2 separate regions of the Homo sapiens genome follow, and region 1 is linked to region 2. The links come from fine-mapping of genetic effects on gene expression. A gene starts in region 2. The other region holds a variant in brackets. All regions are shown on one strand. Distances are between the middles of the regions.

Region 1 (8,326 bases), 24 kb after region 2:
TGGATGTAAAAAAAAACCCCAGCCAGTGGGTGGTCCTGTATTTCACATGCTTTGGGCACACCCAGCAGAAATCGAGAGCTTGCTACTGGATTTTTAAAAAGAAATTCTTTCCTTAGCACCTTTGACATGTCCTTGTTTGCACACAGAGCCCTCTAATTTGGGGTACACAGAGAGAGGCACAGAGACCCATGGATTATATACTTTCCTGCCCTTTTGGTAACTTGTTGGAACCGCACTTTTCTTTCTCAAAATATTATAGCTGATCATAATCAAGTGTCTGAGTCATTCCCTACAAAGTGGGGCATTTGTCTGAGGGATAGAGTCACCCACTTTGATTTACGATAGCCCAAGGCAATTTCTGACCTCGCAGAGAGGAGAAGTGTAAAAGACAAATGAAGCAGGATGGAAATCTACAGGAAACATCAGAGATGTTCTTAGTGAAGACCCATTCAGGCATAGAGATGTGTCTCTGGGTCTGTTCTGTGACTGCCCCACAACCCCTCGCTGATCTCAGCAGTGCATGAGTGGCACCACAAGAGTCTGAATGAAAACCCTGCATTTGGGCCAGATGCGGTGGCTCACGCCTGTAATCCCAACACTTTGGGAGGCTGAGGTGAGTGGATTGCCTGAGGTCAGGAATTTGAGACCAGCCTTGCCAACATGGCAAAACCCTGTCTCTACTAAAAATACAAAAATTAGCCGGGCATGGTGGTGGCACCTCTAGTCCTAGCTACTTGGGAGGCTGAGGCCAGAGAATTGCTTGAACCCAGGAGGCAGAGGTTGCAGTGAGCCAAGATCAAGTCACTGCACTCCAGCCTGGGCGACAGAGTGAGACTCTGTCTCAAAAAAAAAAAAAAAAAGAAAAAAAGAAAACTCTGCATTCGAATTTGTGACTGTAGACATGTCAGCACTGCAAGCAAACTCCCCAAGCTGTAAAAACAGTGTAAATTCCATCTCCCATCAGGCCCAACACGATCAGGTCAACCTCGGTGGGCATCCCAGCCTTGCCAATATTTGCTACAGGGAACTGGGAAGTGACAAGGAACCACACAGCTCCAAGATTCAGTTTCCTCACCCGTAGAATGGAGATACTAATACCTGCCTCTCAGGGCTTCCGAGTGGCTTCATAAGAAGGCATGCAGAGTACTCAGCTTATGCCTCACCCAGAATCCAGGCTCCAATCTTACAGGGGCTGCTGAGGCAGGACAGGCAACATCCTGGTGCCCATGGGGCTTCCATGTTTGCACAGCACACCCCCCAGATGATTACCTGGGAATTAAAAAAGTTATGCCGCCTGGATTATTAATGATAGCCCACCCCCAGAGACTCCGATTTAGTTGGCCTGGGATATAGCCTAAACACTGGGATTTTTTAAAAATGCAGTGTAACACAAAGCCATAGCCAGCCTCAGCCACATACCTACATGGATCCACATGTGTTTCCCATTCCTCCGCCTCATTCGCTCCAGCTCCCCCGGCTCCTAGCTCCATCTCTGCTCTGGATGTTGTTGTTATTTTGTGGCTGGGCCAGGGAGCAAACTCTCCCCTCTTCTACGACCTGCAGGGTGGGGGCCCAAGCTGGATTCAGGCCTCTGCCAGGACCTAAGCCTCTGAAGAGTGTGGGGAAGCAGTGGTGATGAAGGATCCAGGCACCTGGTGCCGAGGGCAGACAGGCATAAGAGCTGAAGCTATGAGATAGGAGGGGCCAGGAGGCCTGGGGTCTGTGGGTAGAATTCAGGGCAGTAACCTCTAGCTGAAATGTAGGTTTTCCCTCCATTATGAACAAGGGCAAAACCCCCACAGTAGTCTTCCTGGGGCTTTGTGACCATTGGGAATCATCACTCCTTCTATATGACAGCAGAGTTGCTGCAGATAACTTGCAATATTGGTTTTGTTCATCACTACATCAAAATCACAATCCTGCGTAGACCTGCCGCCAGATTCTGTGGTTGGTTCATTAAATGAAGAAGCACATAGTTTACCTGATTACAAATTTATTGTTTAATATTTTGGTAACAACAGTTTAATGTCACTGGCTTACTTTACAATCCTATGTATTTTATCTTACGCATTAAAAGCACTCCTAGGCCCAGCGCGGAGGCTCACTCTTGTAATCCCAGCACCTTGGGAGGCCAAGGTGGGCAGATCACCTGAGGTCAGGAGTTCAAGACCAGCCTAGCCAACATGGTGAAACCCTGTCTCTACTAAAAATACAAAAATTAAGGCAGGTGTGGTGGCGCATGCTTGTAATCCCAGCTACCAGGGAGGCTGAGGCAGGAGAATTGCTGGAACCTGGGAGGCAGAGGTTGCAGTGAGCCGAGATTGCGCCATTGCCCCCAGCCTGGGCAACAGAGCAAAACTCTAGTTCAAAAAAAAAAAAAAAAAAAGAGCACTTCTGGGGTTGGGTGCAGTGGCACATGCCTGCAATTCCAGCACTTTGAGAAGCTGAGGTGAGAAGATTACTTGAGGCCAGGAGTTCGAGACCAGCCTGGGCAACATAGTGAGACCCCATCTCTACAGAAAATTATCTGGGTATAGTGGCACATGCCTGTGGTCTCAGCTACTTGGGAGGCTGAGATGGGAGGATTGCTCAAGCCTGAGAGGTTGAGGCTGCAGTGAGTCGTGATCATGCCAATGCACCAATGCAACCTAGCCTGGGTGACAGAGCAAGACCTTGTCTCAATAAAAAGATTTAAAAATATAATAAAATAAGAGCACCTCTAAAAAGGACTCTATAGGCTGCACAGGACTCCAAAGGGGTTCCTGGCACAGAAAAAGTTAAGAGCTATGAGCAATGAGATGAGGGGTGTTCAAAGCCATGATTAGGGCAGCAACGGTGGGGATAGAGTCCTCTGGCTCTCCCCAGGAACTGCCTGGGGGTTTTATGAGCTGCTCCTTCCTAGGCTCTGCCCTGCACCAAGTCCCTGGCCCCCTGCAGGCCTGGTTGTTCACTCTGCCTGGGTCCCCCAAGCCAGCCTGAGTCTGAAAGAACTACCTGGTCCTTGAGGCCTCACCTGTCCATCCAGACCCCTAAGCCCCGGCACCTGGCTGCAACTCTGGCCTTCCCATTTCCTTAGGTAAACTGCAATTCCTCAGAGCCAGAAGAGCTGACCAACACTCTGTGAGGGTGGGGACTCCTTGGGAGACCAAGGAACCCCAGAGTGTGGCAGCTGCCCCCACGGCACAGCCTGAGTGGGCAAGTGACTTTTGGGGCAGTGTTTCACTGGAGGGACAGGAGCAGTCTTTGCTGAAGGCCTGGTGGGAAGCTGCTGGGCCTTCCTAGGAGGTTGGGGCAGAGAGCACGGCATGGGAGACAGAGCCCAAGAAGCAGCTGCCAGGGTGCAGGGCGACTTCCAATGCTTGGGGCTGCCCCTACATTTGACACTGAGAGTGGAGGCCCAGAGCTGGGCCCCATTTCCAGCTCCAGAGTGCAGATGCTCTAGCCTGGTCCTGTCCTCTGCTCTCTTCATACCAAGAGGGCTGTGGTCCAGAAACTTCCCAGCAGGAGTCCCCACCAGGAGTCTCAGCCTCTTCCTGGTCATCTAAAAGCCTCCTAGAATCCTAGTTCTGGTAGCAAAAACTTCACAGCTTCTCCCCAAGGACCAGAAGCCTACGATTTCACACGAGTGTGAAGAGACATGCGCCCCCGCCAAGGACTCTGTGTC[C/T]CCAGCAGGGGACAGGGGCGAGTCACCACATGATGAGATTGATGCATGAGAACTCCTGTCAGGACAAGGGAGTTTCTGGGTTTGTTGTGGTTTTAATTTGTGATCTACTTGATGCAAGCACATTCTTTAAAAATGAAATAGCACTGAAAGGCAGTTTCTGGTCCCATCCCTCCTGCTTTCTTGTGTGAAAATAAATATAATTTAAAAGCTGTTGGAACCCAAAAAAACCCACTTCAAACCTTAAGAGAAATGTGAATGTGATCTTAGTCACATATGGTTCCAACTTCTGTTTCTCAGATTATAGATTAACTTGTTTTCTTATTTTTTTGTTCTGTACAATGACTAGAGAGAATTAAATTATATCAGGGACAAAAGCCTCCTGCCTTCTTAATTAATGACTCTTGTTATAGATTAACTTCCCCTTTGTTGTCCTACTTTGCCTAAACCAGATGACAGAAAACCCATGACTGTTACACCCATTATATTCAAAATGCTAAATGTACCCTTTCCAAAAAGGATGCATTGCCTATCATCAATCAAATTGCTGGAAGTATGTGCCAACTTCATATGAAAAATGTTGTAATCCTGCTAAAAACATCTCTGTCTCTGCATCTATAAATGAAACCCTAATTTCTCTACTTCAGAACACTGCCTCCATCTCTTCGCAGTTGATGCTCCTGAGTGGGCCATCCTCAAACTTTGTATTTGAATAAACTCTCTTTAAATTAGACTCTGATCCTTTTGATTATTTTAAGTTGACATTTTGGCAACTGCAGATAGGACCTGAAACAAGCCTCGTGCGATCCTCGTTGCTTTGCTGGCATTCGGAGATTTAGTACCAGCATGAGTGGCTTTTACTCGTCTGACCTCATCAGAGCTGGCGGGGGTCTCTGGTAAGACTTCTCTCAGGTTTCATATCTTCCTAGTTCTGGCTGAGATTCAGACTTTATTCAAGCAACCCAATTCCACACTCAACAGAGCTAGAACTGAAGCTCAACTTTTGGCTTTGAGGTAGTCACTTTATTGTTATTTCTCTAGAGATTCTGTTATTTGCAAGTTTGTAGTTTCACTTTCTTTTGAGGTTAAGATTTTGTCTGTTTTGCTTGCTAAAGTTTGCAACTTTTCTCCCATTCAAAATTTGGGGCTGGGTGCAGTGGCTCACACCTGTAATCCCAGCACTTTGGGAGGCTGAGGCGGTTGGATCACTTGAGGCCAGGAGTTGAAGACCAGCTTGGCCAACATGGTGAAACCCAATCTCTACTAAAAATACAAAGCATTAGCTGAACGTGATGGTGCATGTCTGTGGTCCCTGCTACTTGGGAGGCTGAGGTACGAGAATTGCATGAACCCAGTAGGTGGAGATTGCAGGGAGCTGACACACTGTACTCCACTGTCCAGCCTGGGTGACAGAGTGAGATTCTGTCTCAAAAAAAATTGGTTAAATAGAAAGCAGTTTCTTTTTAAAAAGAGAAAGTGAATGCTTGTGGCTTAAGCTAAATGTGCAGTTTTAAACTGACCAGGTTTTGGAGCTGGGTTAAAATTGCCATTTAGATTTTCTTTCTGAGTGACCAAAAATTCATTAAAGGCTTTGTCTGAGGATGTGATTTACTTGACCTGAGAAAGTCCTAAATAACGGCCACTGTTCCTCCCAGCTGAAAGGCACCTTAGGTAACTGAGGCCACACAGGACTGTCAGAGGTCATAGCTTCTGCTGTGTAAGGGTCCTACAGGGAAACCCCAAGGAAGAACATACAGGGAAATCTGATTAACCTGTTGGGCATACATGAAGGGTTGGTATCCCAGGGCCCTAAGCCTCCAGAAATGTCTGGGTTTCACTGAAACACATAAGAGAGTAGAAGTGACTCATGGGTGACACCTCGAGGAGTAATCCCTGTTAAGCAGAATACCAGATCCAAAACATCTTTCCCAGCTGGGCACGGTGGCTCACGCCTGTAATGCCAGCATTTTGGGATGCCGAGGGGGAAGGAGCCCAACATGAGGAGTTTGATACTAGCCTGGCCATCGTGGTGAAACCCTGCCTCTACTAAAAATACAAAAATTAGCAAGGTATAGTGGTGGGCACCTGTAATCCCAGCTACTTGGGAGGCTGAGGCAGGAGAATCATTTCAACCTGGAAGGCGGAGGTTGCAGTGAGCTGAGATAGCGCAACTGTACTCCAGCCTGGGTGACAGAGAGAGACTTCATCTCAAAATAAACATATAAATAAAATTTAAAAATTAAAAAATAAGACATCTTTCTCTTTGAGTCTTTGGTCACTTAAAAAGAAAATCCAAATTATGGTCCATCTTCCATCTAAAACTGAGTCCTCTTTAAGAAAGAATCCATCTTTAGAAACTCCAGCTGGATTTATGTACAATACTTATGGCACCACCTCCTGTCAATATTTGGAAAAATGGTCTTACTTGACCCAAGAAAATCCTAACATTTGCAATGGACAAAATGTAGTACCTTTGAAATGCCTAAACTAATTTAATTGTGTGCTCAATGAGAAAAAGTCAGCTATAAGATAAAACAAAATAATTGGGAGAGTTATTTTCAATGAGGCTTGGAAGCTTCTAAAGAGGTTATAATAAAGTTATTTCTTTACAAGAGAACAAAAAGTTGTCTTAAAAAATTCTGAATTAAAGACTGCTGAAATTTATCCTCCTCCCTCAGCTCCTCTGTCTCTTTATTCTTTATTATCCTTTATTATCTTCTCCTTCTCTTTATCCTTTAGTACCTTGCCCAGATCTACCTCCTCCTCCTTCTGCTTCTACTGTTCCAGCTCCATTTCTCAAACAGCCAGTGTCTGGTAGGGGAGAACCTACCCTAGTTTCTCAATCATGGTCAAAGGTAAAACTTAAAGACATAGTTCAGGAATTTCCTGATTCTCACCAGGACCAGGACATTGGTTTTCTCAGGAAATTTAAATTAAATATTTGTGCTTATGACCCTGGCTCTACTTTGGGAAAAATAATTATTTTAAATGGAGTATGAACACAAGCTTTTGTTGACACTGGAGCCACATTATCTGTAATAAATCTCACCTTATTACAAGATTCATTCCTTGGAGTAAACAAAAAATTCAAATGGTGGGTGTCACAAATACTCCTGTATTGGTTTATAAATCTCAGCCTGTAGCTTTTCAGCTACGTCACTTACAAGGGACTTATGTTTTCCTTTTGGTTGAATCAGCTCCCATCCATCTTATAGAAAAAGACTTAAAATTATATAATACACTTCTTTCTCCCAAAAAGGGAAAATGTATTTAGAATTAGATGATAAAACTGAGTTACTGGACATAAAAAGTTTTTCAAAATCTAATTTAATTGCAATCTATATTGCCATAGTAGACACTGAATTATTGAGTAATGAAAATTACAAAACCTGCTAAAGGTAGTACCTGATCAATTGTGGTTAAAATCTTCTGCTGATATTGGAATAATCATCTTGGCTTCCCCAATCAAAGTTCAAATAGATCCATCAAAACACCTTCCAAACCTTAAGCAATACCCTCTATTTATTTATTTTTAAAGTATTTTAAATTCATCATATATGGATTGAGTGACTTTGTTAAGTTTAACAGATGTTTATGTAACTTAACTGTGAACTGTTCTTTTTTTGAGCCAGGGTGTCACTCTGTCACCCAGGCTAGAGTGCAGTGATGTGATCTGTGCTCACTGGAACCTCTGCCTCCTGGGCTCAAGCAATCCTGCCACTTCAGCTTCTTCAGTAGCTGGGACCCCAGGTGCACAACACCATGCCTAGTTAAATTTTTGTATTTTTTGTAGAGATGGGGTTTCGCCATGTTGCCCAGGCTGGTCTCAAACTCCTGAGCTCATGCAATCCACCTGCCTTGGCCTCCCAAAGTATTAGGATCACAGGCATGAGCCATCACATCTGGCCAGTACCCTTTAAAAGTAGAAGCTATAATAGGAATAAAACCTGTAGTTCCAGGCTATATAAAAAGAGGTACATGTAATACTCCAATCCTTCCTGTAAGGAAACTAAATGGTAGAGGATAGAAGTTTGTATAGGATCTGAGAACAATTAACAACATAGTCATTCCTCATTATCCAGGAGTGCTAAACCTCCATACATGTTGATGCCATTCTTACCAAAGGCACGTTCTTTACTGTAATAGATTTATGTAGTGTGTTCTTTAGTACTTCTGTGGATAAAGACAGTCAATTTGTTTTCATTTTCACTTGAGAAAACAGACAATACACATGGACATCCTGCTCCAGGGATACATTGAGATCCCAACACACTTTTCACAATATGTAGATGATTTACTCCTCTGCTCAGAGGCTAGGCAAAGCCTCTATAGATGATGGGCTGCACTTTTTACAACAATGAGCTTAAAGGGACACAGACCTCAAAAGAAAGATTTCAGTTTAGAGAAAAACAAATAAGATACTTAGGTCATTTAATATCAAAGGAAGGTCTTTTCATCCATCCAGGCAGTATAAAAAAATATTGGCTTTCCCTACCCCCATAACTTAAAAAACAACCAAAGGGATTTCTGGGTCAGAAGGATACTGTAGGAATTGAGTTCCAAACTTCTCCCTAAAAATTCAACCTTTATATACTCTTTAAAACAAGACAAGTCCGGCACCCTGGAGTGGACTGAGGAAAAATCAGTTAACATTGGAAGAGATCA
Region 2 (8,326 bases):
CTTCTGAGGTGACACAGCTGAGAGCAGCAGAGCCTAACAAAGCATACTCCTCTTCCCCAAGGCGGAGGCATGAGAGGCATGAAGAGGTGAGACCCCAGACCACAGCCCCAGCCTCTGGCCAGCTGCCAGGGCAGAGGCCTTTGGAGCTGCTCCCTCTCTGGGCTGCTCCCCCTTCTCCACTTCCTGGAGAACTGGCTGGGGTGGGGTGAAAGGGCAGCTCATGTTGCAGGCCCAGCCACACCTGTCCAGGATAAATAAAGGCATTTCCCCGCCACCCTCCTTTCCCAGTCTCCCTCTTGAACTCCCTTCTCTGTGGGTCTGCAAGCAGAGACCCTATGAAGGGATGCCTTGAGGGGCTGCTGCTGCCCCAAAGTTGCTGCCATGAGCCCCCGGGAGCCACCACCCAGCCTGCAGGTGGCCTGTGTCCTTCCAGGAGGAGCTGCAGCACACACCTGCAGCTGAGAGGGGACAGACCCTCCCCAGTGCCTCTCTATTAGTCCCAGTTAGAGGGGTGAGCAAGCCAGCATGGGAGTTAGGGGTGACAGGATACAGGAGATCCACCCATGGACATCCCTGTCCTGTGAGCAGACTCGAGCCTCAGTTTGCCAGGCTCTGAAGCGAGGTAACGATCCCAGCCTCGCCTGCCTGCCCACCCCACAGGGTCACACACTCTTGCCTCTGGTGCCCTATGGCACAGGCTCAGGTCCTGGCTGGGGTGGGAGTGGGGTTCCTCCAGAGAGCTCTGGCCATGCCTCCCCCGTAGGGGGATGTCCCTGGTGCAGAAGGGCCCTGCGAGCCCCGGCAGTAAATCCTACAGCCCTGGTGGGATGGCAGGGCTGTGTCCACAAGGCCTGCCCTGCCAGCGGCACTGAACCAGGACACAAGCCCAGGCTATCAGCAGCCTACCACCAAAATTTCTCAAGAGGCTCCGAGCCCTGGGGAAGGCTCCAGTACCCAGTCCAGCCTGCTCCGCGGCTTAGGTGATTTGGGGTATGCCCCTAAAGGAAGCCGAGAGGCCATATCATGCCCATCCCCCGGTGCCCTGCCCGAGCTTCGGGTTCTATTTTTAGAAGTCCCCACAGTCATTGGATCCAGCACATCCCTGCATACCCCCTCCCCAGAGTAAGGACATTCCTCCTGCTATCTAGCTTAAGGCTTCTGGGCTGCCATTTAAGCCCCTGGCTGGCCGGGGCCAGGTGGCACATAGACCCTGGGTGAGGTCATTGGCTATCCTGAGTGCCACTGAGCCCAGTGGCCAATTTGCACCCATAGGGATAGGGCAGGGAGCACCAGCAGGAGGCCTCGAGATGGTGGAGCTGGGGGAGATGTGGGCTCAGTCCCAGGCAGGGGAGGCCACAGGGCCCATGAGAGAGCACACAGAGGCTCCACCTTATACAGGAAGGAGTCCTGCAAGCATGGGGGTGGGGAGCTGTGGGAAAGGGCAGTGGGAAATCCACTGGGGCTCACATGCTCACAGGTCACCACCTCATGCAAAGTGTGCAAGGCTGTGGGTGCCCAGGACCCTGTGGTCTCCAGGGCAGTAGATCTGGAGGGGTGGAATCTCCAGGTTAGAACAAGCCACATCTGCAACTGAAGGATGGAGGTCAGGGCCTGTTCCCTGCACCAGAGCCAGGCCAGCACCCCTCCTGTAAGCATGTGGCCTCTATGGCTATTATAAGGCTCTCACGGCATCCCTGGGTGGGGCTTCTACTTCTGGGGTCCCCTCAAGTACCCGTGGAACAAAAAAAAGATTACTCCTCCACTGGGGGCATTGGCTCCTGACCCGCTGCCCAGGTTCCCTGGCCCCTCTGCCAAGCCCCTTCAGGCCTTGCCCACTTCAGTGCTTCCCCTCCAACCCCTTCCTCCAGCCCCCAGGCCCAAGGCAAGTCCTTAAGGCCCCAGAGAAGAAACTGTCCCCTTGTTCCCCTGGTGGGCAGTAGCCCAGATACCCCTGCCTACCTACCACCCTCCAGTGACAGACTGGGGGCCTCCCCCTCTGGCCTTGTGCCCGGAACAGCACGGTCAGGGGCTCAGCCACCAGGCAGGGTTGTCCTTGCCCTGTATGCCTCACAGTTCGCCCTGAGCCTTGGGGCCTTCAGCCCTGGGTCTACCAGTGCCTTGCTGGGGAGTCTCTTTGTTTGACAGAAACTGACGGAGTGCCTACTACGGTCTGGGGGCTGTTCCCCCATCAGTCCCTGCTCCTGGAGTGCTTCCTCAGGAGCATGGCTAACTTTCTGCCTCTCTGGTGTTGCTGTCTCCAGCCAGGCGGTAGAGTTACTCAGACAACCCCTGATGTTCTGTGTCATCTGCATCAGGCCATGCTGCTCCCCATCACAGACACTGCAGGATAGGGGGCCATCTCACCAGGCCCCAGCACTTGTGGGGAACAAGACCTGAGACAGACAAAGCAGCCATGGTGAATGGGGAGAAGCGCCCAGCCCCATGAGCCAGGGTCTTGGTGTCTCAAGTTTGGGATGGAGCAGGTGCCCAGTACTCAGTCCAGCCCAGCCCCACACTCTGACAGCTGGGCAGCCAAGGTCAACCGTCTGTCTGTCCATCTATCCAACTGCCCATCACCTGCCCTCTCCATGCTGGGAATACTCCCTTCCCAAAGCAGCTGCCCATATCTAGGGAAATGCTCAAGGCTTGGGGGCACCCTGAGCCCACTCTAACAGTAAAGGGATCAGGAAGGTGCTGTACTCTCTGTCCAGCTACCTGCCTGCCTGCCTGCCTGCCTGCCTGAAAACTCAGCATTTTCTTCTCTGCTAAAAACACCTACCACCTGCTCATGATGTCTCACATGCATAACAGGCCGGCGCGCTCCAGTGAGCAAACAGCTGTGGCTGAGACCAGAGGACCAGGCCAGTCCCAGGGGATGGGGCATGCTCTGCTTTCTGAGAGGCTCAGAAAGGACAGACAGACAGACGGACACACATGCCCTCCTCCAAGCGTGCCTGCCCCATCGGGTGCCAGGCTGTGGCAGGGTGCACTCACCCGGGAGATAGTGAGGGGCATGTTGAAGTCCTTGCCCCCCTGCAGACGGAAGCCCCAGGGCCCGGGCCCAGTCAGGGTCACACTGTAAGACATGCTGGTGCTGTCAGCGGCCGCCTCTGCAGACAAAGGGTAGAGAGGGTTGAGTGAGAGGGCACTCAGGCACTCCGCCTGCCCGGTCCACACCTCTGCCCCTGCCCCTGACCCCCAGCCTTGCCTGTTCTGTCCCTTGCTGCCCAGCCGGGCTGCGTGGAGCTCTTGAGAGGCTCCTAAGAATAGCTGGGAGCGAATGCCATCGACACTGATATCTGCCTTCGGCTGCGCCCATAAATGGACTGTAACCCTACACTGTGCCTGCCAGCCTGCCGCCTCCCAGCCGGTCCACCATGACTCACACGGCTAATATAGCCCCTGGGGAGGGGTGTCCGGCACCCAGCACCCCCCAGGGGGGAGGAAGGGGAACTGGCCTGGTTGGTGAGAATGCTCTGGTCTCCTTGCTCCTGTGTCCTCTGGAGAGCGTAGACACTCGCTCTTCCTGCCCAGTGGTACCCATCCTCTTGCTCAGAAGACCAGGGGCTGAGCTCCCTTGGGTAGGGGCTTTGCTGCCGTGTGGTCCCTGGCCAGGATTCTGGGGTTGTGCTTTATCCAGTATGGGGCCCTGGAGGTGCCTTGGCTTGAGCTGAGCCTCCAGCTGGTCTGTGACTGGCCCAGGGTTGTCCAGCCATAAAAACGATCATCATAACAGCAGCTCTGGGCATAGCCAACCTCAGTATGGGCCCTTCACTCCCTGGGATCCTGAGAAGCTGCCACCTGGGCCCGCAGGAGACAAAGCTCAGGGAGGTTAAATGACTTCTCCAAGGTCACACAAGGAGTGGACCCAGGTCACACTGGAGCCTGGGCTGATTCCTACAGAATGCATGCCAGATAATGGGCTCCCAGTAGCCACAGAAGCCTCCCAAAGCCCTGGTCCTGGGCAGCTGGCCCTCTGCCTGCACCCCTTGGCATAGGGTCTGAAAGCAGGTCTGAGGCAGGCCCATCCCCTCCAGACCCTCTGGGGGCCCAGCCAGTTATTCCTGGCTCTCCTGTCTTTGTGCTCTGGAAAACTTGACGGCAGCATGGAAAGCTCCAGCTGCCAGTGCCACACGCCAGGCCCCGTGCCCTTTGCGCAGGAATGGCAGGGGGCAGGGAGAAGGGAGGAGACGCCATTTGCTCAGCTGCTAGACACAGGGCCAGGAGGGGCAGGGAGGGGGAAGCACGTGTGGCATGTTCAGCCTGTACCCCAGAGACAGTGTGTTCTGGATGGGGGCCTCAGCACCTTGGGACTTCTGCCAGTGCGGTCTTTGGGCCAACCCCTTCCCCAAGAAAGACCTCAGGCCCCTATGTGGTCTGGAGATAGATCAAGGCCCACCCTGGCTCCTTGGTTGGAGAAACTGAGGCTCAGGGGAGGCAACTGGGTTGGCTGCTTGCTGGCCCTCTTGGAGGGGTCTGGCTTGGACCCTGAGGAGTCAGTAGAGGCCTGGGTGTGAGTCATTTCTCAGCTTCTAGCCTCACTCCTGGGGCCTGGCACATGCAAGGTACAAGGTAGGATCACCCATATTACGGGGTTGTTTTGTCACTTGCCCAAAGTCACAAAACTATCAAGTGGAAGAAGTCAGGAAAAGACCTGTGTCCTTTTCCCTGCTTAATCACTTCCTTCACCCTATATCATGCAGCCCAGCCCAGGAGGCCAGCAGTCCATGGCCAGCATCCCTTCCCCATACCATTCCCTATCCCTCTCTGCAAAGCCCCATGTCATTCATCCCTAACTCCAGCCTTATGCCCTTTCCTAGGGGTGTTTGTCCATCCTGCCAGGCTGGGGAGGACTCAGCAGCAGGGCATAACCAGTGTGGGAGAAGGAAGGCACCCACCCTCAGGGCCAGGGAGCTGGGGGAGGCTGTACCTGGAGCTGCACGCTGTCTCTCTGGCCTCTGGCTCCTGCCTGATGAAGCTCGCCTCTGGGGAAAGGGAGGGGTGGCAGGAGAGTGCTCTTAAAGGCGAAGGCCGGCCTCCCTCCATCCGCCTCCCTCGGGAGATGTGAAGCCAGTCAGAGAGCAGCTGGTACCCATGGTCTGGGCGGAGTTCAATGGCTCACTGGGGAGTGAGTGGGGATGGAGGCCAGCCTGGCCTTTGTCCCTTCTCTGCTGTACTCCTTGCAGTTTGAGGTGGGCCTCAGAGTGAGAGTCCCAAGAGTGGGGACAGAGGAAGGAGAGGAAGTGAAGTTGCTGGAGGCATCAGAGGCCAGGCCCTGGTTCTCTCTCCCATAGCAGCACCAACACGTAGAGACCATATTTGTCTGAAGACACCTTCTCCGCTTTTTATTTTCCTATACCCTGTCAGATCCACACAGCCCTGGGAGGAGCTTAGACCACTACATGAAATGAATCACAGACGCAGAGTGTGCACGCATGTGCTTGGTGTGCATTCAGATAGGTAACTACGCGAGAGCGTGCCTGCAAATGCCCGCGTGCACAAGAATGTGGGCCACAGTGGAACGGTACACTGGGGGAAGAAGCCACAGGTGAGTAACTGTTCCAGCGTGCAAAGGGAGGTCTGTGCTCGGCTTCAGCTGTTGGCAGTGGGAGATGCGGGGCTGGCCTTCCTATGCCAGTGACAGGCCCAGCCTGGGGGCAGAGGCTCATAAATAGCTGGTGTGTTCTCTGGAGCCATCACCATTGTCATCGCCTGGACAATTGCAGCACACAGCATTTGAGGAGAGGCAGACAACTCGGGAAGTGGGAGGGCCTGGGCACATACCCCTCAGGCTGAGCCTCGGGTGCGGCTGCTGAGCTGGAAAGTGGATGCGGAGGACGTTATGGGGCAGGAGTTTTGAGGTGTGGAGAGGGGCCATGGGGCTGGGGCTGTGAATCCCGTGCAGCACGGGTGACAGGGCCACTTCCAAAGCCTGCAGGCTCACAGCATAATCCTGGGTCTGTGTATATGAGGGAGACGTGGGGGGGCTGGATGTGTCTCAGAAGAAAGGGAGAGCCAGTGGGCGTCCTACATCCTGGGGTCCTGGCTGGGGATCAGCCCCTTGGTCTGCAAACAAACAGCACACATCTGTTTAGCTGAGGAGCAGTTCACTGGGGGCAGTCTCCCGATGACCCTCCACACACTGGGTCACCGAGCAGTGGGGGAGGTTGCATGGAAGGGCCAGGTTGTGTCCTGGGTCAGGGATGGGCCTTCCCAGAGTCCACATCCCAGAGTAAGAGCTGGTAACGCCTAACGCTGCCTACAGAGCATCTCCTGGGATGCTCCCCGGGCTCTTGACTCCCGGGGTCACAACTGAACCCATCCTCACCCCCACCATCCAATCCGCTCCTCTCTTCCACATGTGGAGACTCTGGCATCACCCCCGCTCCTGCTGTCCTTAAATGGGTCATCCCTTTCCTGCCCTGCAGCACTTCCTTCTTTGGTCTTCACCCTGCAAAGCTAACCAACCCCCTCCCAGGGCTTCCTGTCCCCAGGTCAGGTCTGGAGACACCTAAGCCAGTCCCTGATGGGGCCTTCCCACTGCTCCTACCACCTCCGCCTCCTCTTCCCTTCTCCTATGTCCCCCACTGCCAATCCCCAGGGTCCCTCTGGCTGCTCCCAGGGTCACAGAGAGACATCCTGTTCCAGGACATATTGAGCTCCCTCCCCTGTGCCCCTGTGTTTGCACAGTCACACAGGCTGTATCCTCATCCTGGACAGCTCAGTGCTCCCCCCACTCCCCACCCCTGCTGCCTGCAGATCCCTGCTTCACCTCTATCTTCCTGGGGAACCTCAGGGACTTGCCTCTGCTTTCAGTACCCTGCGTGCTCACACCTCAATGGCAGCGCTTATCACATGTGTTTGGTGATTGTTGATGGCTGCCCAGCAACCCCCCTGAGCCTATCCCTCCAAGACAGGCACTGTGTCTTTCATCAGTGCCTGGCCAGCCTGGGGGTCACTGCCAGGCCTTTGTCCTGGCGTTTATGGCATGCACAGTGCCTGGGCTCCAGGACAGGGTGCGGGGCCCCCGGGGGGAATGCTGAGGGAGGCTGAGGCTCCCCGACTGCAGGTACAGCCCAGGGCTTTCGTTCTTGGATGCACAGGGGCACAGCACTCAGGAAGAAAGGCAGGCAGGAATGTGCCTTTGGCCTTGGACTAGCTAGGGAAGCTGGAGAGAGCCCAGGAGCTGAGCTGAGGGTGTTGTGTGGGTGTGACAGGAGGGGCAGATGGGGAGCTGTCAGCTGGGGCGAAGGGCTGCTTGGGAGCCTGTGCACACGACATTTCCAGTGTTCCAGAATATGGCCTTCTCTAATCGCCATCAACATTCCGTTCCATAGGCACTTGGGCCGACAGCTGGCCTTCTTTTAATAGCCACAAGTATTCCGGGTGACATCCTGATCTTAGGGCATTTATGGTGAGCACATCCACAGCTTACAGCCCCTTCCTCCCCAGGTATGTCCAACCTCGCAGTCACACAGAGAGGTACATACCACCCACACTCAGTCACATGCACAGCTTAAAGCAGACACATTAGGGCATGCTTAGTCACGTGTCACTGGGTGTTACAGTGACAGAGCATGTGCCAGGTGCTACAGTGATGGAGCATGTGCTGGGCACATGGCCACACACATGCTCGAGCTATGCTCTGACGGCTGCAGACCTCCTACCCTCATCAACACACACATGTACTCTTATCATGCCACAGCACAGCCAACAGCACCATGCAGAGTCAGAGTTGCATGATCACACACACACACACACATGTGCAGACCATATGCAGGCCCTGCTCAGAGCATCTCAGAGTCACAGAGAACCCCAGGCAGACAAGGAAAAGCTGGGAGGTGCTGGGAGCAGGTGATTCCTGGAGGATATCGCCCCTGCCCATGAGAACAAGTCTCTCTTTCCTGGCCTCTCCCTGGGCTACTGGCCCCTAACCCCCACCCCTTTGTGGATTGGCAGGTACCGGGCCCAGTCACCTTCCCTGGAGTCTCTGCTTCGTGTCCCTGGGGTCTGGGGGGTGCCTTGGCTTCCAAGTCCTCCAGACCCTGACCGTAGAGGGACCGCCCATTTGCTTGCTGGGCAGCTCCCCACACAGCTGCTGCCTCCATGTGTGTCCAGCCCTGAGGGAGGTGAGAGAGTGACTGTGAGGTGAGAGGGACAGTCCGTAGCTTTGCTCCTGCCCTTACCCCACCAGGCCCTCCTTCATCCTCCCAACAGGTATTCATTGCGGGAGGCCCCTGACACCATTTGCACCGTTGCCGGTCACCAAATAAACCCCGTAAATTGTGCATGCCTGTCCTAGGGTGTGTGTATGTGTGTGCAGGTT

Evidence for each region. PIP is the estimated chance that this variant, and not a neighbour inherited with it, causes the effect.
Region 1: its variant is fine-mapped to the expression of LDB3 in breast (GTEx, PIP above 0.99).

Annotation. Positions count from the first base shown.
Region 1 is chr10:86,639,945-86,648,270 of GRCh38, reverse strand. No RefSeq gene overlaps it. Among named protein-coding and RNA genes, the nearest start is that of OPN4, 10 kb to the left of the region's middle. RefSeq lists enhancers at 2,477-2,646, 4,818-5,057. The variant C/T (reference allele first, on the strand shown) is at 3,665.
Region 2 is chr10:86,663,453-86,671,778 of GRCh38, reverse strand. LDB3 (LIM domain binding 3) reads right to left here and starts at 3,268. Exons shown (of 14, transcript NM_007078.3): 1 at 3,209-3,268; 2 at 2,995-3,110. The coding sequence starts at 3,087. OPN4 (opsin 4) reads right to left here. Exons shown (of 10, transcript NM_033282.4): 9 at 7,977-8,120; 10 at 5,319-6,066. The coding sequence ends at 6,028. LOC105378409 (a long non-coding RNA gene) reads left to right here and starts at 5,230. Exons shown (of 3, transcript XR_001747526.2): 1 at 5,230-5,548. RefSeq lists an enhancer at 3,088-3,137.